Linked DNA regions of Homo sapiens. The protein of the gene in region 2 purifies or fractionates together with the protein of the main gene of each other region. This does not show direct contact. Each region holds a gene or a part of one and is shown on either strand. Other genes may lie near its edges.

The links.
Region 1: the proteins of EDA (region 2) and AP3B1 purify together in Homo sapiens (affinity purification with mass spectrometry; 4 studies listed by BioGRID and IntAct, with this or other methods). This does not show direct contact.
Region 3: the proteins of EDA (region 2) and AP3M2 purify together in Homo sapiens (affinity purification with mass spectrometry; 3 studies listed by BioGRID and IntAct, with this or other methods). This does not show direct contact.
Region 4: the proteins of EDA (region 2) and ALG5 purify together in Homo sapiens (affinity purification with mass spectrometry; 4 studies listed by BioGRID and IntAct, with this or other methods). This does not show direct contact.

What each region holds. Positions count from the first base shown.
Region 1 is NC_000005.10:78,221,695-78,228,722, reverse strand, and holds part of AP3B1 (AP-3 complex subunit beta-1), read left to right. Parts: intron 1-483; coding exon 484-579; intron 580-1,190; coding exon 1,191-1,351; intron 1,352-3,114; coding exon 3,115-3,181; intron 3,182-7,028. UniProt on the Homo sapiens protein: Subunit of non-clathrin- and clathrin-associated adaptor protein complex 3 (AP-3) that plays a role in protein sorting in the late-Golgi/trans-Golgi network (TGN) and/or endosomes.
Region 2 is NC_000023.11:70,032,111-70,039,138, reverse strand, and holds part of EDA (ectodysplasin-A), read right to left. Parts: intron 5,742-7,028; coding exon 5,611-5,741; intron 5,059-5,610; coding exon of another isoform or gene 4,939-5,058; exon of another isoform or gene 4,093-4,938; intron 3,782-4,092; coding exon 3,530-3,781; 3' UTR 1-3,529. UniProt on the Homo sapiens protein: Cytokine which is involved in epithelial-mesenchymal signaling during morphogenesis of ectodermal organs. Functions as a ligand activating the DEATH-domain containing receptors EDAR and EDA2R. May also play a role in cell adhesion.
Region 3 is NC_000008.11:42,156,058-42,163,085, reverse strand, and holds part of AP3M2 (AP-3 complex subunit mu-2), read right to left. Parts: exon of another isoform or gene 6,214-7,028; intron 5,146-6,213; coding exon 4,974-5,145; intron 806-4,973; coding exon 668-805; intron 1-667. UniProt on the Homo sapiens protein: Part of the AP-3 complex, an adaptor-related complex which is not clathrin-associated. The complex is associated with the Golgi region as well as more peripheral structures.
Region 4 is NC_000013.11:36,982,329-36,989,356, forward strand, and holds part of ALG5 (dolichyl-phosphate beta-glucosyltransferase), read right to left. Parts: intron 3,413-7,028; coding exon 3,299-3,412; intron 1-3,298. UniProt on the Homo sapiens protein: Dolichyl-phosphate beta-glucosyltransferase that operates in the biosynthetic pathway of dolichol-linked oligosaccharides, the glycan precursors employed in protein asparagine (N)-glycosylation.

The DNA.
Region 1 (7,028 bases), on a different chromosome or scaffold from region 2:
TGGGCCCAAATTCTTTCTCTTATTATTTTTTAAAGAGGTAGGGTCTCTCTGTGTTGCCCAGGATAGCCTCTAACTCCTGGGCTCAAGTGATCCTCCTGCCTCAGCCTCCTGTGTAGCTGGGACTACAAGCATGTACGCCATGCCTGGCTTCTTTCTTTTATTTTTATCCCTCATTTTGAAAATATTTTTACAATTTAGTTAATATTCTTATATGAGATCTGCTCAGGGATTTTTTATTCCCTTCAAGAGGAAGGGACACTTTGATAGGCTATTGCTATTGTGAACTGGACTATTAAAATGCTTACTTTAAAAGCTTTTCCTGTTGTACTTATTATCCCACAAAATATTATTTTTATTTTACAATCTAACATGTGACCAGATTCAGTTATTTACTTGAGAAGAATTGAGCATGGATTTTGGTATAGCAAATACTGAGTTTTAAATTTTCACTCTGGTTATGAATAAATGATTTTTTTTTAACAGATCAAGAAGTTGGTATATGTTTACCTGGTTCGATATGCTGAAGAACAGCAGGATCTTGCACTCCTGTCCATAAGCACTTTTCAGCGAGCTCTGAAGGTAAATAATGGAGTGAGTAGGCAAATAGCTACAAGGTTTCTGCAGAGTTGAAAGTGTGTCAGTTAAAGAAGTGGAGCGATAATCCACTAAATAGCACAGTAGTGTCTTGAAAGAGTTAAAAGCCTCCTATAGTGCCTACTCAGTACACTTAGAAAATAATTTATACAACCAACTGAAACCTTGCTGTATATGTTACAGCTTCTGTATGTTTGTTTATATTCAATATAATTATTTTCATGCTTCAAAGAGCTGTTTATCATTATACTAGTTGTTGAAAGTACGCAAAAGGGGTTATAAGACATTTTTAAACATGAAATTGATGACCTGCAGCATTTTATTATTATGAAAGTATAAAAACCCAGCATATTTAGTAATAAATGACCAACTAGAATTATAACTATTACTTTTCTTTAAAACATTATTAAAGAAGTAAACATTTATGTCTGTCTTTTTTTCCCATTCCTATATACTAATTGTTCATTTTAAATTAAGTAGCTTTCTTTTGCTATTGTCATATTACACCCTTTAAGCACCTATTAACTGTGTCTGAAAGATATGTTTAAAATATTGTAAAGTTGAAATTTTGGTGAATATTTTTGCACTATTTTTAGGACCCAAACCAACTAATTCGTGCAAGCGCTTTGAGAGTTCTGTCAAGTATTAGAGTGCCAATTATTGTACCTATCATGATGCTTGCTATTAAGGAAGCTTCTGCTGACTTATCACCATATGTTAGGAAGAATGCAGCCCATGCAATACAAAAATTATACAGGTAGGTGCATTGTTAACAATATACCAAAGATCTCTGATGTTACATGGAATGTTATAGACCACAGAGGCTTGTTTTATTCGCTCTTTTAGGTAGGCTGCTCTTACACTAAGTAAATCCAGTGACTGTATGATGGTATTTCCCCCTGCTGCAAATGTTCCTTACACATCTTTAATTTCGTTTTGGCTATAGAGACCCTATGCAGGTTTTTATTTGTGAGGCTGTTAGAGCCTGTGATAATTTATAGATTTTATAACTTAAGAATAATCAGAATTTGAATTCTCATTTATATAGTCTATCTCATGTACACATATGCTTGTATTATTAGAAAATTGAGATTTTTTTTTCCTGTTTAGGGTAGAATCTTAAGTGTCTGATCCTCTCAACTCACTTATATGTGTTTTCCTTTCTTCCATCTTTGTTCCTGCTGCTCCCTTCGTTGTCTAATTCTTTTCCAGAGCTATTTTATTAAGTAATTTTAAAAAGTGTAGTGATTTGAAATATAGTGTGCTATACCATATCTGTGTGATATTTTAGAAATGTTATGCAATATTATACAATGCCCTGATCTCTGTGGAAAATTTACTGTCCAAATAGAATTGTCTACAACAATTTGGTATTATTTTCAGCTATCATTTATTCCTCAAGCTTTTTGAGACTCTCTTCTGTTTCTGGTGTTGTATTCACAGTATTGTGCTATGTGTATTTAGATGTATGAAAACAGTAGAGGATGTGGCACTTAATTATGAATAGCATATCATGTATTTGAGGAAGAAGATCAAAGACATACCAAATAATTAAAGGCAATCTATAATGAATAAGATATTAGCACTTGATATATATGTATATACAAAGGTACACTAGCAATGTCTTTGATAGGACAGGGACCAGAGATGATCATATTTTGTTACCGGAAAGTAAAGATGTAATGAGATGGGATTGGTAGTGAAATACTGCTTTGAGAAGGAAGACTTAAGCTGAAATTTGAAAGAATTAAAAAGTTTGTCCAGATAATTATAATGTTTAGTAATAAATGTGTATGTTTGTAGAAAGTGAAACCTCATATTCCTATGTTAACTGCCAGACAAGGTTTTATCATGCTTCTCACTCACCTTTTCTCCTTAGAAACTTATGGGATAAGATCCATGCTCACTCTAACGGCTTAAAAGTCCTTCTATCATTGGGCACCAGTATATTCCAGCCTCAATGCTTGCCTCTCCTTGCCTTGAGCTTATAGTCTGTTAGTATTCTATCTCAAATGTTTTAAGCTTATTACTACCTCTTATTTTTCCTAGTTTTAGTTGGCAGATTTTATAATGCATGTCTCTATCAGTGAACTAGTATGATATAAAATTCTTATTTGGAAATTCTCCATATTTGTTTTTGGGAAGTATGTATGCATAGTAAAATAATGACTGCTATCTAGTTATTTTTTTCCTCCCAGTTGAAAAGAGTTTGTGGTTTATCTACTTACAGTCGCTTTCTTGAAGTTTTCCAACTCTTTTAGAAGTGAACTTGTTCTTTCAGTACTATCTTAACTAAACCATTGATATCTGGTTTAGTTAATATGAACAATATTAGAGGGAAAGATGAGGACACATTCATGAGAAAAACCATCCCATTTTATTTGTTTTTCTTTATTTCTAACTTATAATTCTTGCTCTCCTTTCCCTCTTTAAAAATTTCTCAACATCCTTGAATTGGTGAGCATCATGTAAAGCTAGAATTAAAGGGAAAAATTAATATGTTATTTTTGTATTTTTTAGCCTTGATCCAGAGCAGAAGGAAATGTTAATTGAAGTAATTGAAAAACTTCTGAAAGATAAAAGCACAGTAAGTAATGTCTTTTTACGTCTTTGACATAAAAATGTACTTTATTTACATAGTATCATTTACCATTATATATTTTATATAGTTGTATTTATTGATTTCAAAATGGTATAAATATTAATGGCACACAGGACTATTTTTAAAGAACAAAAATTTTCATGTAATGAGAAAGACTGCATTTGGAGTTTTAGATCGTTATGTGTTTCTTCATCAGAATCTGAAAAAAGGCAAGTTGAGAAAAAAATCTTTAACCTGTGGCTAAGTGGTTAACATGGTAAGATCAAGGAATAGAGGTGACCTATGGGGGATGTGAGTTACTAGTGTACTAGTATCTTAGATGGGGCTTTTGTACCCACTTTATATTTCTCAAAACTACTGAGGAAAAGGATTCCAGCTCATCTTAGGATGCTATCATCAGGGAGTATGTACTATCTATGCATGGCAGCTATCTAATACAGTAGGCAGTAGCCCTGTGTAGCTGTAACTATTGGTTTATGGCTTAGCATTTGATCTATCCTGGATAATGTTCAATAAACATTTGATTAGAATGTGTATTCTGCTGTTGTTGAGTGGAGTGTTCTATAGATATCTGTTTTTTAGTGTTGTTCAAATCTTCTACTTTGCTGATCTTATGCCTACTTGTTCTATTCATTATTGAAAACAGGGTATTGAAGTCTCTTTAATTCTGTTAGTGTTTGCTTCATCTATTTAGGAGATTGGATGTTTGGTGCATGTATGTTTATAATTTTTTTAATCTTCCTTTTGTCATTGTAAAATGTTCCTCTTTATCTCTAGTAACATTTTTTTGTTTTAATGTCTGTTTTGCCTGTTATAAATACTACTATTCTAGCTTTTTTATGGTTGCTGTTTCCATTATATATCTTTTTCCATCCTTTTACTTTCAGCCTGTTTATATTTTTGCATCTATTGTATGTCTCCATAGACAGCATATAGTTGGCTCTTGTCTTTTTATCCAGTTTGCCAATGTGTGCCTTTAATTGGAATGTTTAATCCATTCACACTTATTGTTGTTATTAATATAGTTGGATTTTAAGCTGTCATTTTACTTGCTTTTATATGTTTCATGCCTTTTTTGTTCCTTATTTCTCCTTTATTGCTTTTTCTTAGATTAAGTGAATATGTTCTAGTGAACATTTTAATTCTTTTCATGGTTTTTTTACTATATATTTTTGAAAATATTGTCTTATACATGGAGATTATACTTGTAGTTTCATTCCTAGACCATTTAGTAAATTTCTGTTAGTCTGTAGTGTACCAGAAATCATTATTGCATTTCTTCTATGCATAGTTGGTATAACGTAGGAGGTAACTAAATATAGATTGATTATAAATGAAGATAGAGAAAAGAAATTTGATTCCTTTTTGTCTTCTGTATGACAGGCATGCTATCTGCCAGATATGAAGTCAATATTATTAATATTATGGTTAACTTGATTTTAATAATTTAAAAAAATACTTAGTGCTTTTCTATTATAAGTGCAAGAGATTGGCTAAGTACCATGGAGAGTAGTAAGATCTACAAGAAGCAGATCTGTCATTTTAATGAGTTTTACCATCATTTCTGCTACATTATAGACTAAGAGAAATTCTTTGGATGGCCTGGGAATGAACTCTCTCTGTATAATATGTGCATGTCTTCCCAGACAGGATACAGCATATCATAGGTAAAAACAATAGCGTTTGAATCAGATAGAACTGGCTTAATGTCTGAGCGTCTGCCACATAGTATATGTACCAATTCTTTATGAGTTTTAGGCTCCAGATTTGTAGGGTTTATAATATCTAATTTATAAATTTGCTGTTTGTGTCGAGAGAAAGAACTATTGTATATAAAACCCTCAGCACAGTGCCTAACACCACATGGGATGTGATTAAAAATTCCAAATAAGAAATAAGTACTCAAAAAGATGTAAAGATACAATATCTGTGTAAAATTGGAATGTCTGTTTCCAAAATACACCAGAAAGTAAAAAATATTGAATACTTGTTCATCACAGGTATTTAATATTTGTTGAATGACTGTTGAATTAATTTGTTACATTCTTGGTGATAGTAATTAAGTGTGTAGTATCGTTTTTAATGTCTCCCTCACCCCCCTGCAGTGGTTTCATGCTCAGTGTTCATAGGTAGATTCTTTGGGGGCTTTGGTGGCCTACCCTTTGTGAGGCACTCATTTTTCCTAAAGTGTTATATACTATATGTTTATTTTTTTTAATTAAGAATACATATTTCTTTTTCTGTCTATAGTAAAAAACAAAGTTTTTACTGACACCTGTAATTCTGGTGGTATAGCACAGAGTTCCTTCCAGCCTCCTTCCTTTTTATATTTGAAACTGCCTATTCAACATTAAGAAATGTGGCTCTGGCCACGCACCATTGTTCATGCCTGTAATCCTAGCACTTTGGGAGGCCAAGGTGGATGGATTGCTTGAGTCCAGGAGTTCGAGACCATCCTGGGCAACATGGTGAAACCTTGTCTCTACAAAAAAAAAAAAAGAAACAAACAAACAAACAAAAAAACAAGAAACAGGGCTCCTATTTCCACAATCTGTTTACATTTTTGCTGAGTCTCAGAATGCAGAGAAACTATTGCTTCAGAATTGCTAGCACTGTACCTCTGTGGGGTATACAGTAGCATGGGGCCTAATAATTAGAGTTAAATATTTAATTAGAGTTAAATATTAGTTTAGAGTTGTTTTTGTCTTTAATCTTTTTTTTAATGTATGGTAAATCAAAATTGCTTCAACTATTTATATCTTTGAACTCGTTGTGTTGGTATGTAAGAAAGCTATTGATTTTTTTTGAGTGATAAATTTTATATTCTGCTTTTTTACTGAATTCTTCTATTGTTTGAGTTAATTTTCTCATTCATCCTCCTTGGGTTTTTTTTTGCATGACAAAGAGTCTTTACTTTTAAATGATTATCAGTACACCAAGTAGTAACATGTAACAAGTTCTTGAATTCTGTCCTCTTTGATTAAGTAACTAAAACTGGCCCAAACAATTATACTAGTGTTCATTGTTCTAACCACTAGCAGGAATGGACTACCAGATATTGCAGAAAAAGGCCAAGACTTCACCCCTCTTCTGCCTAAACTGCTTCCAGATGGTTCTCTTCTCCTGGGTCTCCTCTACTTTAATGCTGCAGCTGCCTTGGGATCGCAGGGCAGCAGCCTCCTTGGCCTTGAACTCTTTCTCCCTCTGCAGGCAATATTGTTCAATTTCACCTTGAACTGCTGCTTTGGCCTGCTTCTCCCTCCGGTTCTTTCACTGCAGGTCTCAGACACCCTTTTCAGCAACCTGCAGCAGCTACTGGATCCCCTGAGACTGACTGGCCATGACAGCACCAACTCTGAGGCAGAAGCAAGCAGCCTAAATCTCTCTCTCTTTTTTTTTTTAGAGAATGAATCATATCTGCAAATAGAGATGTTTTACTTCCTCTTTTTCAGTTCCTAGAACTCTAATTTCTCTTGCCTAATTATATTGTTTAGTGCCATCACTACAGTTGTGTTCAATAGTAGTGGAGATGGTGGGCATTCTTGCCTTGTTTCAGTCTAAAGGAAATGCTTACATTGTGTTTGCATTAAGAAAGATGCTGGCCCTGAAGATTTTATCTTTGAAATATAGTACTTTTGCAAGGTACTTCAGGATTACTTGATATGGGTCAATTGTTTTGCCTTGGTACTCAGTGAGTCCTTTCAAAATGTAGATTCAGAATTTTTATTATCTCTGGCAAAGTGTTTTTTTTTAAGATTATAATTTTAAATATTAATTCTGTTATTTTTTTTCTTTTTCAGGGATTCCTATTTTATGCACATTGGATCTTCTT
Region 2 (7,028 bases):
ACAGTAGCCTAAGGACTTGCTGGCACTGGGCCAGTCTTGTGCTTTCCAGTCCAGAGGCTAGAGCTGGGAGAATGCCTTGGGAGGAGGAAGAGTTCTGATGAAGGCTGCAGCTACTCTCTCCCTGCCTGGCCAGGCTCCTGAAGGGGGCCAAGTACTTCCAGCCTGGAGTTTGTGGGTGGAAGAAAGAAGATGGCCATGTGGGACAGGAACTGCTTTACCCCCTCACTCTGCTGAGTCTGGAGGTTGGTGCTTGCTCACCACTTGGGGCAGGTCATCTTCCCTCTCTGGGCCTCAGTTTCTACATAAGTAACAGGGTGGAATGTAGGTTGGGCTAGATTCCCTCTAAGGGCCTTTTTAGCTCTAAATTTCTCTGAATCTATTTGCATCCACAGGAAGTTACATAAACACATACACTCATACATGGATCAAAGTCTTTGTTTACCTCCAGGGTTCCTAGCTCTTTCCTGTTCAGCAAAAGAAATTTGGCTCAGGATGGATGAAGGGGGAAATAGGCAAATACTACTTCTCCAGGTAACCAGTAGCCGAGCAGCCTCCGCCAGCTGTCTTTTGTGCCAGCTTGGCTGTTGAAGCCCAAGTAACTGGCAGAGACTCCTGCCATGCCATTCTCCTTCAAACCTCTGTCATCTGCTTGCCCACAAATGTCCTCGTCCCATTCTCCATGCAAGCATTGGTCCTCTGGCAAATTCACACCAACATAATTCCAAACTGCACATCTATTTCCACATTCTCTCATCAGTAAATTGCTTTGTCACTTTGCCAATGACTTAGCAGCAATAGGGCTCCCCAGCTACCTATTGCTTCCCTCATCATCCCTCGCCCTCTAGAGTTCCTTTGGAGGGTTCAGAATGAATCAAGGGTCCAGTGGAGATCCTATTTCCTTTATCATCCCCTCCATGTCTGGAGAATAGAATGGTATCAGGATGCTCTTTAGGGGCACAATTAGGAAGACTTTTCCTCCTCTCTCCTCACACCTTTCTGGCCTCAGAACCAGTCCTCTCTTTCAGGTCTTCCCTCCATCCCTGAGAGACCCTGGTAGTATCAAAGTCTCTAAGGTATGGTGGAAAGAGATAAGGAGTCACACTAGTAGTTGTGGGAAGCAGGCTGGCTCCTGTAAGCTGTCTGTAGGGTAATGAAAGGAGGACTTTGCCCACAGTAGGGGCTCTACACATGATGGTTGGCTGGTTCCTAGGATGGGTGAAAGAACATAAAGGCCACAAGTTCTGTGGGTCCCAGAGGCCTGCTGCTCCAACATTGTGCCAGGAAGATTCTTCTGAACACAAGAGCTCTAAGGCTGTTCGCTGTTTTCCAAAGAAATGTCTGACTCTTTTTGCCACAGAGCCCCTGGCAGCCGAGAGGACGGGTATTACCATCGAGGAATGAAATCAGGCATCTCTGGGTTTCTCCCCGGAACTCTCAAGGATTTCAGTTCCCAATTACCACTTTTATTGGTTCTCTCTAGACCTCAAATTCCACACAATGCTGTGGTGTAATGGAACAGCTTTGGAGTCAGACCTGGCTGAAGCTCCAGGTCTGCGGCTTAAACTGGTCAAAACACTCTGAGAGTGCTACCTCTCTGAGCCTCATCTAAACAATGATGTTTGTCATATTATCAGCCTTGCCTTCTTCAAAGGAGATAATACAAGAGAAATTATTTTCCAAACATGAAGGAGTGGTTCTTGTTGGTTTCTGCTACAACTGCGGACTGTCCGAGGCACTTTATAGGAGTTAGGGCCAGACACATGCCTGGAGTTCACCTCACCTTGGGTTGCAAGGCTGTCATTAGCAACCAGACAACGGAGGCCTAGCCCATCACGTCTCACCCTGACCCTTGAAGGGCCAAGCAGTGTGGTTGCTTAGAAAGGGAAGGCACAGCTGAGAAATAAGTACCCGCTGTTCTTGGTGAATTTCAGCTGCCTGAAGGAAATTATTCCCCATCTCCTGAAAAGGAAACACATTTCAGGAACAAGAGGAGCAGACTGTACAAGGCTGGCCTTCCCAGGTTTGGGCTGGATCTAGCACCCAGAAACCAGGCTGAGCCCAGGCACTTTGAAGTAAGGCTCTCGAGGGTCCTACCATATGATCTGTTGGGAAGCTTGGGGTTTAGGGGAAGGTGAATTTGGACCTGAACTAGGGGGCAGATCCCTGCTCAGTGCCTAGACACTGGCTTCTCCTGAGCCTGGCTTTAGGGGAGCAGCATGAGCACCTGCGGTGACAATGCTCTGCTGTGGCTTTTTGAAGCCAGAGTGAAGAAAGACTGGGTTAGTACAGCATCAGCTGCTGGCCTTTCAGATAAGGCCTGGCCTAACGTCCACTTGGGTTGCAGCAAACTTGAACAAAATCCCTCTGTCCTATCCTCACCCCTTGCCCTTTCTAGGCCAGGTAAAAAGGCTCTGCCTTGCTAATGCCCAGGAGCAGTCTAGGATTTGGGAATTTAGAAGGCTGTGGTGAGGGCTAAGAGTCACAGGTACTAGAAATTGAAGGGACTTCTGGAGGTCATCCCGTCCAACCCTTCGTCCCCAGACAGAATTTGATTAGGAATGGATGAAAAACATTTGTACTGCTTAATAAATGGAAAATTCTGTTTGTGCCCAGGTAAGCTAAAGAATATCCCAGACTCACATGACCACAGGTCCCAGGTTAGGCACCTGTCTCAGACAGAGGTAGGCTCCATGGAGAAAGAAGACAGGAGTTCTAGTCAGGCTGGGAATGGGGGCAACTAGAAGGTGACCCCAGGGAATTTTCTGAGTGTGGAGCACAGCTGTAAATAAAATGAGAGTCATGTGACCCAAGTACGGATTCAGGGTCTTAGGCGGGCAGGTTTGTGGCCATTCCCTGTGATTGTTCCAAAGCACAGCAAACTTCCCAAAGCCCAGCAAGCTGCCACGGTGTGGCTGTCAGCTGGAGTGGGAAGAGCACTCCAACCCTCCTGCAGGCCACAGTATAGAGCAGAAAGAACATTCCCACTGCCAAGGATGCTCCTTGGCAGGTTTCTCTTATGGTCTCTGCCAAAAGCACCTGCCTTTTCCCTCTCTGGCCTTCTTCTTAGGCTGCAATGCTCCCTTCCCACTCCACCCCAGCCACTACCCTACCCAAGAGAGGAGCAGCAGCCCCCTTGGGGTCAGATGTCCACCCCCAGAGTCTGGAGTGCACCTTTGCTTTCTCTGGCCTGCTGCCCTGGATCCTCATTTTAGTGCAACAAACAATAGATCTGACAACAGGGACCTCGGGGTTGAAGAGTCATGCCATAAGTCAGTCAACATGGAACCAAAGAAGGTTCTGCTTCATGTAAACCCTGGGGCTCCATCAACTGTCCTGTTAACTCAAGGTCATTCTGGAAAGTCAAGCAGGCCTTGTCACCCTGGAGTCACTGGGGAATAAATAACACTGGGGCATTTCTCTGCGGCTGCAACACCAATACACCTCACTCCACAGCAGCACTTAGAGGTTCTGGGAGTCCTGGCTCCCAAACCCAGGGAAGGGGCACGGACAGAGGCAAAATGGGGGGAATCTAGGATGCAGGGGCTTCACCCAGCCTGATGGCCCCAAAGAACGTGGTGTGCTTGCTCATGTTGATGGAGATGTCAGCGTGCACCATCTTGACGGCGATCTTCTGCCGGGCCTTGAGGAGGCAGACGCCTGCGGTATAGCAAGTGTTGTAGTTGGTCTTGCCCGTCTCGATGCTGCGTGTGCACTGCAGGAAGGGCTTCTCATCCACCACCACCTCATAGCTGGCAAAGTCAGTGAAGTTGATGTAGTATACCTGAGTGAGAGGCAACAAGAAGGGATTGGGGAAGAGAGGAAAGAGAGGGTGGGGGGCCCTCCCTGTGGTGAATTGACAGAATCTTCTCAGATGAGCTGTTAGTATACCCCATGGATGGGGCAGTGCCATGTGAAGGCGTGCTAGCTGGCCAACAGGAAAGGACAGGTGACAGGCATTGTTCTTCCCCTAGTCCATGGGGCTCAGCTGGCTGAGCAAACTTTTCTTACAACAGCACACTTGTCGCAAACTCTGTAAGGCTAAGAACCATGCCCTATTTGCAGCTTCACCGTGCCCCTGTTCCCCCGCCCACCCCTGCCCCAGCCCTGACATGAAGCAGAGTGCTCTGCACGTAGCAGGTGTGTACACAGTGCCGTGGACACAAACTGACTTCCATTCTTGAGCCCCACGGACTATTTGTGGAGAAACTTAGAAGTCACTGATTCCCCAGAGAGGGCATGTAACAACTTGTGATTTCTTGAGCTCCTTAACAGAAGCTTATTCAGCTTGCACCACCCCTCCCCTGGGCCTGGACTCCCCTCACTGATTCACAGTGCCCCTTGGGCCTCCCATCTGATGATTGAGGAAACAGGTCCAGAGAGATCGAGAGCTAGCTACCACAAACAAGACAAAGAATTTGGAAAAGCCCAGGCCCCTAACTTTGTGGCCAGAAGGAAGCACTAACTTATGCTCAGTGGCCTAATGTCATGGGGATTTTCCCAGCCTGCATGGGCCACTCTCAATTCTCTCCTAGGCTCAGAAAATTAATTTTTCCATCCTTCACTACCCTTATCCATCATACCTCACACCAAGTTTTGATCTGCCGCCCACCCCCACCACGTGGAACTTGGCTCACAGGACATCAGGGTTATGCCCATGTGCCCCATGGGTGTTGGGACTCTCAGATATCACCGTAAATCATTTTATGAAAGGTCACTCCCTCTATCAGCTCTTCAGGTGGGAACAGCATATTTGGGTGCCATATACGGGTCAGGACCCAAGCTACAGCGGGGTGCTCAGTGTGCCTAGCAGATGCTTGTTAGCCCACCTTCTCTGGCCGCTCTCATGTGACACCCATCTGTTGGCTCCATAGTCCTTCTGTCCACCTGCCTGCTTGCTGCCCATCCCACAAAAATCCCAACCTCATGGCTCATCTTCCTTTATCTCCAAGGAGCCACTCCCATGGAGGCAAACAATGGGGGAACGGAAGTAGATGGACACTGGTGGACTTGGGGAGCGGGCCCAGGGCAGGAAGAGGACAAAAGCAGAGGGAGAAAGGGCTGGGAGAATGACAGCAGGAAGGAGGCAAGAATAGAGGAATAGAAAGATAGGGAAACAAATGGGAGAAAGAGGAAGGAAAGACAGTCAGAAATCTTTTTGAGGTGGAAAGAAAGTCTGCAGGAGCACTATTCATTACAACGTCCGAGCCAGCAGTGTTGAGGGAAAGGGTTCTCAGTAACCCTGGAACTGACTTTCAAAGAATGTACTGAGACCAAGTTCAAGTTTGGCAGTGCAGCCAAACAGCTCAGAGGGTAAACAGGGGCCTGAGGCCCTGCAGGAGGGAATCAGATGGCAGGGTGTGGGAGGGGTCTTTTTCACAGTTTTTCAATAATATTTGGCTAAGGAAAAACAAAACAAAACAAAACAAAAGAAGCTGGCCCCCTCTCTCTTTCCTCCTTTCAACTCCCTCCCAGTGCGGTCCCCCCACCCCCTCACCCAAAGCAGGAAGTTAGCCATTGGATGGTCTTGGCTGGCTCCACAGTGCCCCTATGTGGCCTGCACCGGATCTGCATTCTGGATATAAGAAGAGTTAGGCCTAAGACCGTACTCACTTCTACCTGACTATAGATGAAGTAGGTGCCGTCCACCAGTACCTCCAGCTCCCCGCTGCGGGGATGTAGCTTAAACACCTTGGGGTTCATAGTGATGCGAGACCAGTCATTGAGCACTCCACCTGAAAGATCTCAGTATGAGAGAAGGGCAGTCACTCAGTACATGTCAGAATAATCGAGGCAACAGAAAATAAATACCAAGGAGTTCACAACCCCCACCCCTATCCCAGTGCAACCAGGGTAGCCTAGAAGGCCAAACTTTAAGAAGAGCATTTGAAAGCAGAGAAGCTGTTCTGTTTGTAAAGCAGCTGCCAGGCCTGCTTCAGGGCTCCTGGGCTCTGCCTGTCTGTCTTTATCCTTCCTTTCTTGACCCTTGCATCTGGAAGGGTCTTTAACCAATACCTTCTAGCTGGAATTTGCCGGTGGAGGATGAGAGTGGGCATGCTGCCCTATTTTCTTTGTTGTTATGGGGCCTGCACAGGCAAAATTCAGACACTGAGTGGCAGGCTAGGTCTTATTATTCAATTTTACTTTCCCAGCCAGAGCTCCTGAATCCCTCTCATCTCATAGGTTCATGGGTTTTCTCTTTCTCCTTAAGAGATTCTTTTTTACGGTTCTTCCACACCCACAGCTTTCTGGAAAGCCTCCCTGGGAGGAAACCACTCAGCCCACTGTCTATCTGGAGAACCTTAGGGATTAGAGATGATTCAGACTCCATGGTAACTGGGGCTACTGACCACTAGTACCAGGGCCCCATAGGTGAGAGGGATCCTTATGAGAGTGAAGGATAGACTGGCAGGCTGCAATAGAGCCAGCTGGGAGGATAGGAGCCGAGCCACCCTTGGCAAAGCATCTGTCTCAGCCCCACCCCAGGCAGGGGTGGAGGGGGCAGTCACACTCCTTTGGACAGCGGAAGCCAGTGTGTGAGGATGGAGGAAAAACTTCTCTTTCCATCCTGCAGAAAGAGGAATGTTCCTTCCCACCATGAGAGGAGGACATCCAAGCCCAGGGAGCCTTTTCCCCTCTAAGCCATCCATCCTGCACCCAAGAAATTATATTTTATAAGTCCATCTTTGGCCAGTTTCAGTAGGCCTGCCTGTCTGAGGGGTGAGGAAACAGCCTTTCTGGAAAAGGTGACCATCTTTCCTTGAGGTGGTAAGTAGATGGGCTAGGAGCTGCCCTGGCTCTGTCCCATCAATGGACCACTCTGCATGACGTCCTCCAACCCCTGACCCCATCACTTCTTCTTCTTTTTTTTTTTTTTCTGAGATGGACTGTCACTCACTCTGTCACCAAGGCTGGAGTGCAGTGGTGTGATCTTGGCTCACTGCAACCTCCACCTCCCGGGTTCAAGTGATTCTCCTGCCTCAGCCTCCCGAGCAGCTGGGATTACAGGTGTGTGCCACTATGCCCAGCTA
Region 3 (7,028 bases), on a different chromosome or scaffold from region 2:
CATAGAAAAGGCAGCTCCCTGAATTTTGTGATTACAACTTTAGTTCTGCCATCAGAACTGGGAGCCAAATACTTTCGAGAAGGTAATTTAATCAATAAGAAATTAATTTGTTACTTTTTTTTTTTTTTTTTTTTTTTTTTTTGAGACAGGGTCTTGCTGTTGCCCAGGCTGGAGTGCAGTGTCATGATCAGGGCTTACTGCAACCTCAACTTCCCAAGCTCAAGCAATCCTCCTACCTCAGCCCCTCACAAAGTTAGGAATACAGGCATGCACAACTATGCTCAGGTAATTTTTTTCACTTTTTGTGGAGATGGGGTCTCACTATGTTGCTCAGGCTGGTCTTAAACTCCTGGGCTCAAGCAATCCTCCCGCCTCAGCTTTCCAAAGTGCTGGGATTACAGGCGTGAGTCACTACATCTGGCCTGTTACTTCTCTTTTTTATTCAAGAGGATAAGACCAATAAAGCAAGTAAACATATGAAATAAACCCTGGTCTGCATCATAATATTAACGTCCATTCCCAGTACCCAGCACAGTGCCTGGCACAAAGTAGGCACTAAATTGAAGTGGATGACCTTGAATGGGGGTTAATTCTGAAACTACAAGCATTATATGAAAGAGGTCCCTTTCTATTTTCATATTTCTGAGAACATATTAAAAGCACCTACCTGATTTATCAATAATTGCATCAATCTCTTCAATCACATCAAAATAGGCCTCATTGTTGGTATATTTCACCCCAGTCCGTCGCCAAGGCACCACTGACAGCTGCCCAGTGGGAAGCTGGTCACCCACATTCGTGCTTCCTGAGGCAATTAATATTACTGTATTTTAACACCATTTTGACTCTAGAAACCACAGAACACCTCCCTAGAAGTTTCTATGCTCCCACTATTCATGCACTCAATTGAAGAATTTTTCAAACAGAAGATGAGGTTTTTCCCAACTTCTATATGGGGTAACCTAGTCTATTTTTAAAACCCCTTGTTGCCATCTGGTCTGCCTTTTCAAACAGAATAAAGGTTTAAGAAAAAGTTACCTGAGAAACAGATATCATATTTTGGTTTTGAAAGTAACCTGAACTTAGTATCTCAGATGCAGCTTAAATAATGTATTGGCTTTCAGTAGAGTTCGTAATCTACATATTGATATAAAAATTTCATGGGTAAAAACAGTATTTGAGCCTGAGATAGGTTCTTAGGTACATTTATGGTAGGTACTAAAATGTACATATCAATATGATCTGTCTCATTCCCAAGTTCCAACACTGAAACTTAGGAAAAGAACACAAAGTTGATCTCTCCCTGTCTTTAAGAATTGTAGATCAATTCCTTCACTTGTTTTTTCCTTTACAGGCATAAACTTTTTTTAATTTAAAAGGTTTTATACTGACATAATAAAATACATTAATTTAAATTCTATTTCCTTCTTCCATTACCTGGATCCTTTTATTTTCTGTCTTTAAACAAAATTTTTTTTAGATAGAGTCTCGCTCTATCGCCCAGGCTGGAGTACAGTGGTGCAGTCTTGGCTTACTGCAACCTCTGCCTTCCGGGTTCAAACAATTCTCCTGCCTCAGCCTCCCGAGTAGCTGGGACTACAGGCGCGTGCCACCACATCCGGCTAATTTTTGTATTTTTAGTAGAGACGGGGTTTCACTATGTTGGCCAGGCTGGTCTTGAACTCCTGACCTAATGATCCACCCAACTCGGCCTCCCAAAGTGCTGGGATTACAGATGTGAGCCACCATGCCCACCTAAAAAATTTTTTTAAGAGATAGGGTTTTCCTATGTTGCCCATGCTGGAGTTCAGTGGCTATTCACAGGCACAATCATAACTCACTGCAGCCTCGACCTCCTGGGCTCAAGTGATCCTCCCACCTTAGCCTTCAGAGTAGCTGGGACCACAGGCATGCACCACCATGCTTGGCTAATTTTTGTATTTTTTGTAAAGACAGGGTTTCATCAAGTTGCCCAGGCTGATTTCGAACTCCTGTGCATGAGTGATCCTCCCGCCTCAGCCTCCTAAAGTATTGGATACAGGCATGAGCCAATATGTCAGGCCCATTTCAACTTTTCAAAAGTGGTTCTTAGATACCCTTTTCTAGATTAAAGTGAGATACAGGCTTAACTCACTTCATAATATTCGTAAATGATTCAGGCACTAACAAAGCTTTTAAGGCTTAAAATGAACTCAGAATATTGAAGAAACCACCAAATTTGTTTCCTTAAAAAGAGGAACTATGTATTAAAATGTATCATCAAGATATAATAATCAAAGCAGTCTAGGGAAAAGGCAGGAAAGCCTAAAAACAGACCAAGAATCCATAATGACAGGACAAGATAGAAATGTCATTCTAAAACAGGGGAAAAGGATAAATTACACAATGGTGCTAGGAAAACTCTTGAAGAAATAAACATTATTGCACACCAAGATAATTTTCAAATGGATTAAATAATTAAATCCAAAAATAAAATCACAAACTAGACTTTTAAAAAAGATCTTCCCTTCTCTGAGATCAAAAAGACATTCTCCTGTTTTTGTCTAATAATTATAAAGTCTGTGTTTAACTCCTTAACCTAGCTAGACTTTATTTTGTGTATAGTGTGAAGTGGAGGGACTTAATTTTTTCCATATTGAAGCTGACTGCCCTAATACAATATAGTTAACAACCAGCCCCTGGTCCACTGATTTGATAAATGACCACATCTATCTACACCAAATTCCTATAAAAGCAAGGGTCTGTTTCTGGACTATTTTATCCCAATGACCTATCTGTCTGTTACAGACAAATACCAAATTTTAAAAACTACCCAAACTTCATACAGATTGAGTAATCTTTACCTGAAATGTTCAGGACCAGAAATGTTTCAAATTTTGTATTTTTTTAAATTTTGGAATATCTGGATTATACCAGTTGCGCATCCCAAATTCAAAAATCTGAAATCCTCCAATGAGCATTTCCTTTGAGTGTCATGTCAGTATCCAAAAAGTTTTGGATTGTAGAGCATTCTGGATTTTGGATTTGGGATGTTAAACCTGTAATATATCTGATATCTGGTAGGACACATTTTATCTTTCCTCTTTTTAAAAATATTATTTTCAAAACTCTCTTGGGTCTTGTAGGATGTCTACTGTATGAATATTTGTCTTGTGTACTATACAAACTTAACGTGTCGTGATATTTGACAGGGCAAATCCTCCCAACAACCCCTTTGTAATTCTTTTCCAAAACTGTCCTGGCTATTCTTGCAATATTTATACTTTTAAAATGTATTTTTCAATCAGTTTATAAAATTCCATGAAAATGCTTGCTTATGCATTAAACAAGACCCAAAATGTAAAACCTTAATGAAAAGAATGATTAATTTGATTAAATCAAAACATTTAAAATGTGGCTAAACACCACCAGAACAAAGCTAAATCACAAGTGATAGACTGTAAGAAAATATCTGTAATGCAGTAATCAAAAGACATAAAGATCTCCCATAAAAGAGATTTTAAATCCACATGAAAAAAGAAATACATTTCAACAACAAAAAAATGAACAAAGGACATGAAAAGGTAATTCACAATAGAGGAAAAACAGTCAATAAATACTTGAAAAGATTTTAGTCTCCTTAATAACAAAAAATGACTGTAAATACAAGATATCAATAAACTATCAAATTGCCAATGTTTCTAAAAAATTATTAATGACAATAACAGGGTTCACTACAGTGCTTTGAAATTGTTACTGAAAGTATAAATTGGCCTAACTTTTCTGGAGAGCAACACATTACAGTACTTAAAATGTATACACCCCTTGACACAGCATTGCTACCTCTACTACTTTAAAGAAATCATCCCAGATGTGCACCAAGGTTCAAGTGTAAGAATGGTAATCCTTGTTATTTAAAAGAACAAAAATCAGTAACATCATAAATAGGGATTCAGTACGTAACTTTGGGTCCACTCCACATGGAAGAAAACTATAAATTATTAAAAATGAAGGCCAGGCATAGTGGCTCCCACCTGTAATCCCAGAACTTTGGGAGGCCAAGGTGGGTGGATCACTTGAGGTCAGGCATTAGAGACCAGCATAGTCAACATGATGAAACCCCATCTCTCCTAAAAAATACAAAAATTAGCTGGGCATGGTGGCGTGTGCCTGTAATCCCAGCTACTCGGGAGGCTGAGGTAGGAGAATCGCTTGAGCCTGGGAGGCGGAGGTTGCAGTGAGTTGAGATCGCACCACTGCACTCCATCCTGGGCAACAGAGCAAGACGCCATCTCAAAAAAAAAAAAAAGAACCATGTAGAAGACATCATCATGGGATAATGTTCATAAAATATCACATGTTAAAAGTGTGGTGGGATTAAAAGCAATTTTTGCATTCTTTGTGCTTTTCTGTATTTCTGAAGTTTCTACAATAATCATGTGTTTCTTCTGTAATCAGAAAAAAATATTTTTAAAGAACACTTCATTTTGTCATTAAAATCAGGGTATTTTCCACAAAGCAAAAATATTATTTCAGGTTGTACTCAGTCTACAAGAGGGGCCAGGCGCGGTGGCTCACACCTGTAATCCCAGCACTTTGGGAGGCCGAGGCAGGTGGATCCCCTGAGGCCAGGAGTTCAAGACCAGCCTGGCCAACATAGTGAAACACCATCTCTACTAAAAATACAAAAATTAGCTGGGTGTGATGGTGCATGCCTGTAATCCCAGCTACTCGGGAGGCTGAGGCAGGAGAATCACTTCAACCCAGGAGGCGGAGGTTGCAGTGAGCCAAGATCACGCCACTGCACTCCAGCCTGGGTGACAGAGGGAGACTCTGTCTCAAAAAAAAAAAAAAAACAACTACAAAGAGCAAAATTAAAGCACTGGGACACCTGAGATCCCCAAAGACAAACACTCAAAACAATGTGCGACACTCGACTAAGCCACTCAGGCTGTAGGATGGCCACTATCTATCAGTTTCCCCCTCTGCCGTACCTGTGATGGTGTTGACAACCGTTCGAAGGATGGTAGGAGGCTTTATGAGTTCTTTAAGAATGTTCGACTCGGTAGCCAATGGAAAACCATTGTCAAGCATCTCTTCCAATACCTCATAAACCACAACTACATTGTCTTTGATCACTGGCTCTGAACAGACTCCAAAATAATCCTGATGGAGACAGAATATACACATTGATCACTCAGATACTGTAAAATAAATAAATAAATAAAAGAATGTGCCTACAGAGAATAAGGATCTGGCCTGTCCATGTGTTTCTGGGCTACTCTTCTACAACGAGGGAATGCAGCATAACCATAGTTCTCTTAGGCAGTCTGTTTGGTAGAAAGCACTAGACTGGCTTATGGTACTACTGTCATTACTAGCTTCTTCTACAAACAAGAGGAACTTAAATCTTTTGGGTTAATTTCCTCAACTTGATAAAATACACAGAATACAAAATTGAATCTTGATTATGTGCTTATCAACAAGAATTTGAAAGAATTATACAAAATAATACTTGATATAACAAAGAACAGTACATGAAAATCTTTACCCCTACTGCTGTGCTATTTCTTAACATTCATGCAGTGAATAAGAGTTGAGGGGAAAAAAATGAAATGAAGGGGACAAGCTAGCACACCTGAAAATTCCTTTGGACTATCTTTAAGACGCTAGCATTCCAAGAACTCTTTGTCCTTTTATTTAAAAGGCTAACGTTAGGTGCTAAATTATCTGCATTGTGGGAAAGCACTGGATTTCAAACCAGAAGACCTGGATTATAATTTTGTCATTTGTAGATTAAGTCATGTTAATTAATTTTGATCTTGATTCTTTAATGGTATAATCAGGATAACACCACTGGAGGTACAGGGCTGTAAGAATTAGGCATGACTAATTAAACACTAACGCTCATGAATGTACTTTGTAAACTATAAAGCACTACAAAATGGAATGCGTGATCATTATTTAGCAAGAAATGTTTGTGGCTATTCAATGTTCCCTTCCAGCAATGTCAGTATGTCTTTTCCAGGACCTCTGAGAGGGTCATGCAACCCTCTTGAACTCATAGAATGAAGGAAAATTTACTCCTTTTGAGAAAGTCCATTCTATTCATGAATGGCTCTGATCATTCCAAAGTTCTTTCTTTTGCTAAACTGAAATTTGCCTCCTAGCTCTGTTTTGCAGAGCAAGTGTACATAACAGCCCTGCAATTATCTGAAAACTACGAGTTTTCACCTCAGTTTTTTTCTTCTCAGGGCCACACTTTCAAGATACTTCCGCTGTTCATGATAAGGTATGGTTTCCAGGTTGTTTCACCATCTTTCCATTTCTTTGACATCCAAAACTGAACAGACTCTACTAGAGTCTAAATTACATTAGATAACGTCAATTATCCACAAGATTCCAATACCCGGGTCACCTAAGAGTCAGGAATGTATTCCTAAAACAAAAAGATTTCCTCTTTAAGAGGAAAATTCTCATTTTGAATGATAATTTAAAAGAAGAAAAAGTCACACATTTCCTTCCCAAAAGTGATTTATTTTTAAAAAATAAAACACTTCACTAGGTTTTATAAACCAGGCATCATGTGAACTAAGCAGCTGGAAAGGAGCCTCGCAATACAGCCAAGTGCTGCAGCCGGCCTGTGAGCCTGCAATTCTATTGCGGGGCCGCTCCTGTCACATTCTGGTCCTGGAAAAATCATGCTGCCGGAGAGGATGCACATCCACATCGGAGACCTGAGAATCAGGATGTCCACTGACTTTTAACAACTGCTTCAAGAATAACAAGCTCTGAAGTCTCAGACTTCCAAATTAGCAAATTTACTCTGCTTTCCCAAATTCCCCCATGGTTTCAACTAGATCAAACAACTCTTCTCACTTCCTGTCTTGTAATAAGTTACATTAGTATGGCCATATAGCGGCTGTCAGTTTCACCAGTGCGACTGTTAATCTCAGAATGAGTAAAGTATCACACGTGGAAATCATAACAAGGCCCAGTTAAAAGTTGTTTAGGATCACAACTCCTGGGTTCTTCTAGTTCTTCCACAT
Region 4 (7,028 bases), on a different chromosome or scaffold from region 2:
TTAAGCATCACTAGAGCTATGCAGTAGAGGCTGAAAGATCACTAGGTAGTTGTAAAAACTTTCCAATATTGGATAAATGATTAAATTAGATTTAAGAGTCAGCAAACTATAGCCTGTAGCCCAAATCTGATCTGCTGCTTATTTGTGTAAATAAAGGATGTATTTTATCTATGTCTACTTTCATGCTACAATAGAGCGTTGAGCAGCTGCCACAGAGGCTGACTGGCTTTAAAGCTGAAATATTTACTATATGGTCCTTTACAGAAAAAGTTCTCTAACACCTGAATTACATAAGTAAGAAGATTTCTTCTAATTTCTCTATGCATGTCAACTTCAGAATGTAAGTTTTCTGAGAGCAATGACTGGCTGTTTATAAGCTTTGTCAGAACCATATTTTTCACTGGGTGGATCCAAAAACTATGAATTTTGTAACTTTAACCACCTATCATTTATTTGCCTCCTTTCCACCTCCTGCAAAGAGTATTACATGATGCATATTAATAAAACTTACTAAATTTAATTCAAATTAATTCAATTGAGCTGGGACACTTAAATAATTAGGGATACTTTAAGGTGCTGTAAAACCAAGGCTACGAATTAATAGCTTAATGATAATCACATGCTTTAATTCTTTAAAACTTAACATTTCTAGTAACAGTGTAGTAAATGGGATTATGATAAGGAAAAAATATGGCATCAGAACTCCTTTTCTTTACAGAGTAGTATAAAGGAACTAGATTTATAAGAATAAAGTTCAGATTTTTGTTTTATTGTTTGGTTCACTCCCTAACATCAGCAAAATCATTTAAATTATCTTTGCCCTACTGCTGAATGACAAAATCAGCTGCTAAAAATCTGATGCCTTATGCCCTCCCTCCCACTGAGTGACTCCCTCTAGAAAGATAATGCAAGGGAAATATTTATCAAGTTTCTCTTGGGGTCCTCTGGAGAAAATCAGGAAATCACACCAAGTAACTTTATGAATGAGATTTTCCTTTTAGCCTATCATGATTTACTAAGATGTTGGACATGAAATACTTTTTTAGTAAGAGTGAACTACAACATATCCAACAATAAATTCATATCATGTTATAAGCCAGAGAACTTTTTGTGATGATGGAAATGCTATACAACAAGCGGGGCATGGTGGCTCACTTCTGTAGTCCCAGCTATTCAGGAAGCTGAGGCAGGAGGATGGAGTTTGAGTCCAGCCTGGGCAACACAGTAAGACCTTATCTCCTTTAAAAAAAAAAAAGGTAGCTTTTAGCAACAAGTAATTTAAATGTGGCCAATGAAACTGAGGAACTAAATTTTCATTTTATTTAAATTTAAATAGACACATGCAGCTAGTGCTACTTGTCTGAAGAGCAATGGTATGAATATCTTTACAGCTAATTCTCTTAAGAATTATATTAGTTGATTCACTTAGAATCTTAAAAAAACAAAAAACACCTAGAAAAAAACAAAAAAAACAGCTAGAAATACAAGGGATGGGGATGGATGATGGTGGGGGAGAAATATACTTCACAAAGTGTGGAATTAAATAAATATTTATTTCTAGAAGGATATGCAGTGAGTTTTTCTGTAATTATTATTAAATTTGGGGGGGCCTTATATGTTTACCTTTTTGTGTTGTTTGGTTTGGTTTTTGCTATAACAGGATCTTAATAAATATGTAATAATATTCAGTTCTAAACTAGGTCTATTTCATTCATAGATAGTTTTACATATTCATCTTATTTTGGTCTCAATTTGTTTCCTTAGTTCTGTAATTTTTTTTTTTTTTTTGAGACAGGCTCTTGCTTTGTCACTGAGGCTGGAGTGCGGTGGGGCAATCACAGCTCACTATAACCTCAAACTGCTGGGCTCAAATGATCCTCCTGCCTCAGCCTCCTAAGTAGCTGGGACTAGACGCATACACCACCACACCCTGTTAATTTTTCTCTTATTTTTACAGAGATGGGGTCTTGTTATGTTGCCCAGGCTGGGCTCAAACTCCTGGCCTCAAGTGATCTTCCTGCCCTGGCCTCCCACAGTGCTGGAATTACAGGCATGTAAACCTGGCCTGTAATTTTTCTTTTAATACCATTTTGTTGTTTTGTCATCTTACCTTTGAAGACCTGTGTTGCTAAATTCTTATTTTCATTGTTTTATTTCTTTAGCCAGAATACTTGCATGTAATTTTGTCCTTTTCCTTGGATTACACTGTCTTAAATCTTTTGTATGCAACTTTAATTCTTTTTTGTGTAATTATATGTTGGTGTGATTGCCATTTCTTTCTTTTATTTTGTCATGATTAACATGGGCAGCTCTCCTACAGTAAATGAACATTCTCCTTGATGTACCTGTATCTCTTCCCCCTCTAAACTAGAATTTCAAGGCCTGAGTATTATATCTGGACTTGAGGGTAGACGGTGGGAAGGCAGGGAGGAGGGACCCTCCCCTGGAGCTCTACGTGGCTTTGTTGGTTACTTGGGTTCCCTGGTCTTGTGAGATTTTGTCGAGTGTCTTGAACAAGGTACACTCCATCCAGGAAAGGATCTAGTCACATGGATCTGTGTCCCCAATTCAGCTTACAGTCCTGAAAAATGGCAGACCTCAGCAAGTTTTCTTGCTTCTGCTGAAATTCTGACGTATTGTGTGGTGGTAGGTATATTGTTTGACATATTGTGTGATGGTAGGTATATTGTTTGATGTTGTCCAAGGGTGCTTTTTCATTCTCTTATTCATTTTTTCCAGATTGGGAAGTATTTGGCAAACGCTCAGGATCCTGAGCGTTTGCCAAATTCATCTTATTTCTCTAAATGGCTTTTAAAAGGTAGGAATGGTACTAGGATTTTATTTCTTTCCTCAACCTCCACTTTTTGAAGTTATGGTGTGAAGTTTCAAATAATCCTTTTTGAGTGATTGCTGCTTGTGATTTTGTTTGTTTCATCAAAAACTGGATTCTGTGATCCAGCTTCATTTCACATCTTTACCTGGAATTCAGGCTATACTTTTAAATAAAAGTCTTAATTGAATATGCACAATAAATATTAAAACTTGGGTAGAAGCAATCAGAAACCAAGAGAGAGAAATGGTCACAATATTAAATAAGTAATTGTCAAGTGAATCTCATAAAATCAGACAATATTTGTAACAAAATGATCAGTTCCTCTATGGGGCTGTACCATTTGTATAAGGATTTCATACCAAAAACACTCAGTTTTTAAACTGATAGGTAAACTCTCCTTTAACTTTACTTTAGCTCTCCTGCATTCTTGACTGAATGTTATTTAAACTACATTCTTATACTCACAGGCCAAGGCTGTAGATCATTTAGCCCCTTTTCTAATTTCTCAACATCTGGAAACTTTGTGGCTCCATCAGCATCTGCCATAAGGATCTTTTCTCCTCGAGAACTGAATATACCCTGTATTTTAAAATTTCAAGTCAAAGAAAATTGGTTAAAACTCAGGTTAAATTCAATGACACTTCAGTCTGTTCTACTTAAAATACCTAAGAGTGAAAGATGAGGTATGAGATGGCTGAAGGAGGCCAGAGTTCACTGAAAACAAATTACCTGTATATTAAGATCTTCTCAAATGAACCTATTGCCTATCTTCATTATTTTAAAAACTTTGTGAAGTCATACTACAAATATCTTGGAAAATACCAAGATAATAAAATAGGTTTGGACAAATTAAAGATATTCTGCATCACAAAGAATAAAAAACGGACAGTACGTATCATACATATTATATGTTTATCGTGTCATGATGCTTAAAATGAATTACGGGCTACTTAGAACCACATATAAAGAACATGTTTATAGACAGATTAAACATTCTAATATATAGATATGCTGTGAAATGCACAGGTCTTTAGTATCATTTATTATAGGATCTAAAGTTTACTAAATTAATTAAAGAAATAAAAAGTGTCAATAAACTTTAAGAATTATGCATAAATCCAAATGTTATGTTATGCCATTTGCGGTATTTGAAACAGCAAAATTATGCCATTCAATTCTGAATTGGCTGGTCTTTTGTGCAAATTATGGCTCCATGAGTGCATATTTCATACAGAAATAAACTGCACATCAACTTTTAATTTCTCTGATGTATTTGAGTGAATTCCTTATTTCTTACGTGCAAATATATTTATGGTTTGATATAGTAAAATTGCTTTGATAACACAACATAGTGTGACTATAGGTAAGACATATACAAATGTAGAGAGAAATCAGATCATTTATTCTATGGTATAATAAGCTAACTAGTTAGTATCTGTGATGTCTTTTTAATCACACCCATTAGAACAAATGCAAAAGGCTAGGTGAGATGACTCACACCTACTACAATCCTAGCACTTTGGGAAGCTGAGGTGGAAGGATTGCTTGAGCTCAGGAGTTTGAGACCAGTCTGGGCAATACAGTGAGACTCCATCTCTACAAAAAAATTTAAAAAATTAGCCTGATATAGTGGCACATGCCTGTAGTCCCAGCTACTTGGGAGGCTGAGGTGGTAAAAAAACTGGAGCTATTAGTCTGAAATGGGGCAAAAAACCAGTAAGTGACTAATTTCAATGATGCGTGATCAAACTTGTTTAAGCCTACTTTCCTGTTCTACCGTCTATGGCCTTCACTTTGCTGCAGCTCCTTGAAAAGGCAGTCTACCATAGCAACTCCCATTTGTGTTTCCTCAGTCATATTTTATACCCATTATTTCTCATGTGCCTCACTGCCTTAAGATTTCCTGATTCTCCTTTTCTCTGTAACCTCCTCTTTGCCAGTTTAATGGCTTCAGGTTCAACTATCATCTGACATATGTGGATGACTCACTCACATCCTCTCTCCTAGGCTATTCTGGATACCACTGCATGTTGTTTCAAACTTAACATGGCTCAAACTCAACATAACTGCCTCTTATACCAGCTCCTCCTCCAGTGTTTCATTCCTTCTATTAATGGCATCGTCATCCTCCCTGTTACCCAAGGCCAGTGGTACTCATTTGACATAGTTTGGATCTGTGTCCCCTCCAAATTTCATATTGCAATGTGATCCCCAATGTTGGAGGTGGGGCCCAGTGGGAGGTGTTTGGGTCATGGGGGTGGATCCCTCATGAACAGCTTGGTGCTGTCCTTGCAATAGTGAGCAAGTTTTCATGAGATCTGGTTGTCTAAAAGTGTGTGGCACCACCGTGCCCGCTAACTTGCTCCTGTTCTCGTCATACGATGCTCCTGCTTCCACTTCGCTTTCTATCATGAGTGGAAGCTTCCTGAGGCCTTCACTAGAGGCAAATGCTGGCACCATGCTCCGTGTACAGCATGCAGAACCGTCAATCAATCACATCTCTTTTCTTTATATGTTATCCAGTCTCAGGTATTTCTTTATAGCAATGTAAGAATGGCTTAGCATGTCATTCTTCTCTCTGATCCCAGACCCAATGCTATGTCATTTTAATAGCTCTCACATTTATCCCCTCATTTTCTTCTCTTCTGTCACTATCATAATCCAAATAAATATTCATCATACCTTGCCCAATATTGCTACACTTGATGCTGGCTGATTAAAGTGTCACTCTGTCAATGGTAAAAAATGTAAAAGCCCCTCGTCTACAGTTTGTGACCTTAACTCACCCACCGCTCCAGCCTTATCTCCAGTCAAGACGTGGGTACCATGAGTGGGTCCTTTATTGTGGCATGTTCTTTCACATTGCTGTGCCTTTGTTCATGTTCCCCGTCTAGGCTCCCTGCCCTCCCAACTTGGAGGTGGTTAAGTCCTAATCCTCCTTAAAGACCCCGCCGAGAATTTGCCTCCTCTGGGACATCTGTGCTGCTGCCCTCAAAAGATGGTGGCACCAACTTTTTGCATGTACTTCTATTATAGCATTTACAACACTGTATGGCAATGGTCTGTCTCCCTACTAAACTGTGATGTCCTTAAGGACAGAATAGGTGTCTTTCATCTCAGTGTCTCTAATGAAAATACAACATTGGCTGAATAAAGAAACAAATGGATAGATTTAAAGCCCATCATGACACTGCATCAATCCTACTTTCTTTCTGTTTCATATATCCTGTGACCCAGCCAAAGTGAATCACTGTTTCTAGTACATATCCAAAGAGTTCCTACTTCTGTCTTTTCTGGCTTTACTAAATGGCGTGCTGTTTTCTCAAGTCTTTTCTCTATAGAGTTATCAGAGAGGTTAAAAGCATGGCTTTCAGAGTGAAACTAACTGCATCCAAATCTTGACTCTACCTCTTATCATCTGATAACACTGGGTAATTTACTTTACCTTCTTTACTCACTTTCCTCAACTATATAATAATCAAACTAATATTACCCAACTCATAAGACACTGTGAAGAGGGCAACATGTGATGATTTGTATCCTGACCATTTCCCTTCTCCTTCCTGTTGAATGTGGACGTGATGGCTAGTGCTCCAGGAGTCACCCTGTGTGCATGAGGAAGAAGGAGTGAAACGGCAGAAGCCTGGACTTCTGATGACTGTGGAGTTGAACAAGCCCTGGACTGCCCACCTTTAGACTTCTTTTTATGAGGGAAAAATAAATAAATGGACCTCAAAGTCAATTATTTAGGTTTTCTTTCACATATCTTGATTTTTAAACTTCCAGCTTGATTCATAGCTGATATGCCTCAGCTGACAGTAACCTCTTTTTTGAAATTTCTTAGCACTTTATCTGCATGTCTCTCATAATTATAATCTTCTTTTTTACTTATGCAAATGCTTACCTTTCCTATTAGACTGCACATTTCATCAGGACAGACCCAAGTCAAATTCATCTTAGTTCATGCTACCATGCATAACAGCATACCTTCATCAAGGTAAAACTTAATACAAAAAACATTTTTTAAACTGCAAAAAACCACATAAGCTATCTGCTAACTCTATCAAAGATACAGAGGTAGATGGTAACATTTTAAACTTTAAGATAAACATAAATACATAAATCTATTTTTAAATCACCCACTATATTATAGATATGACACATCTTAAAATTTGACTAAAAACATGAAGTTATT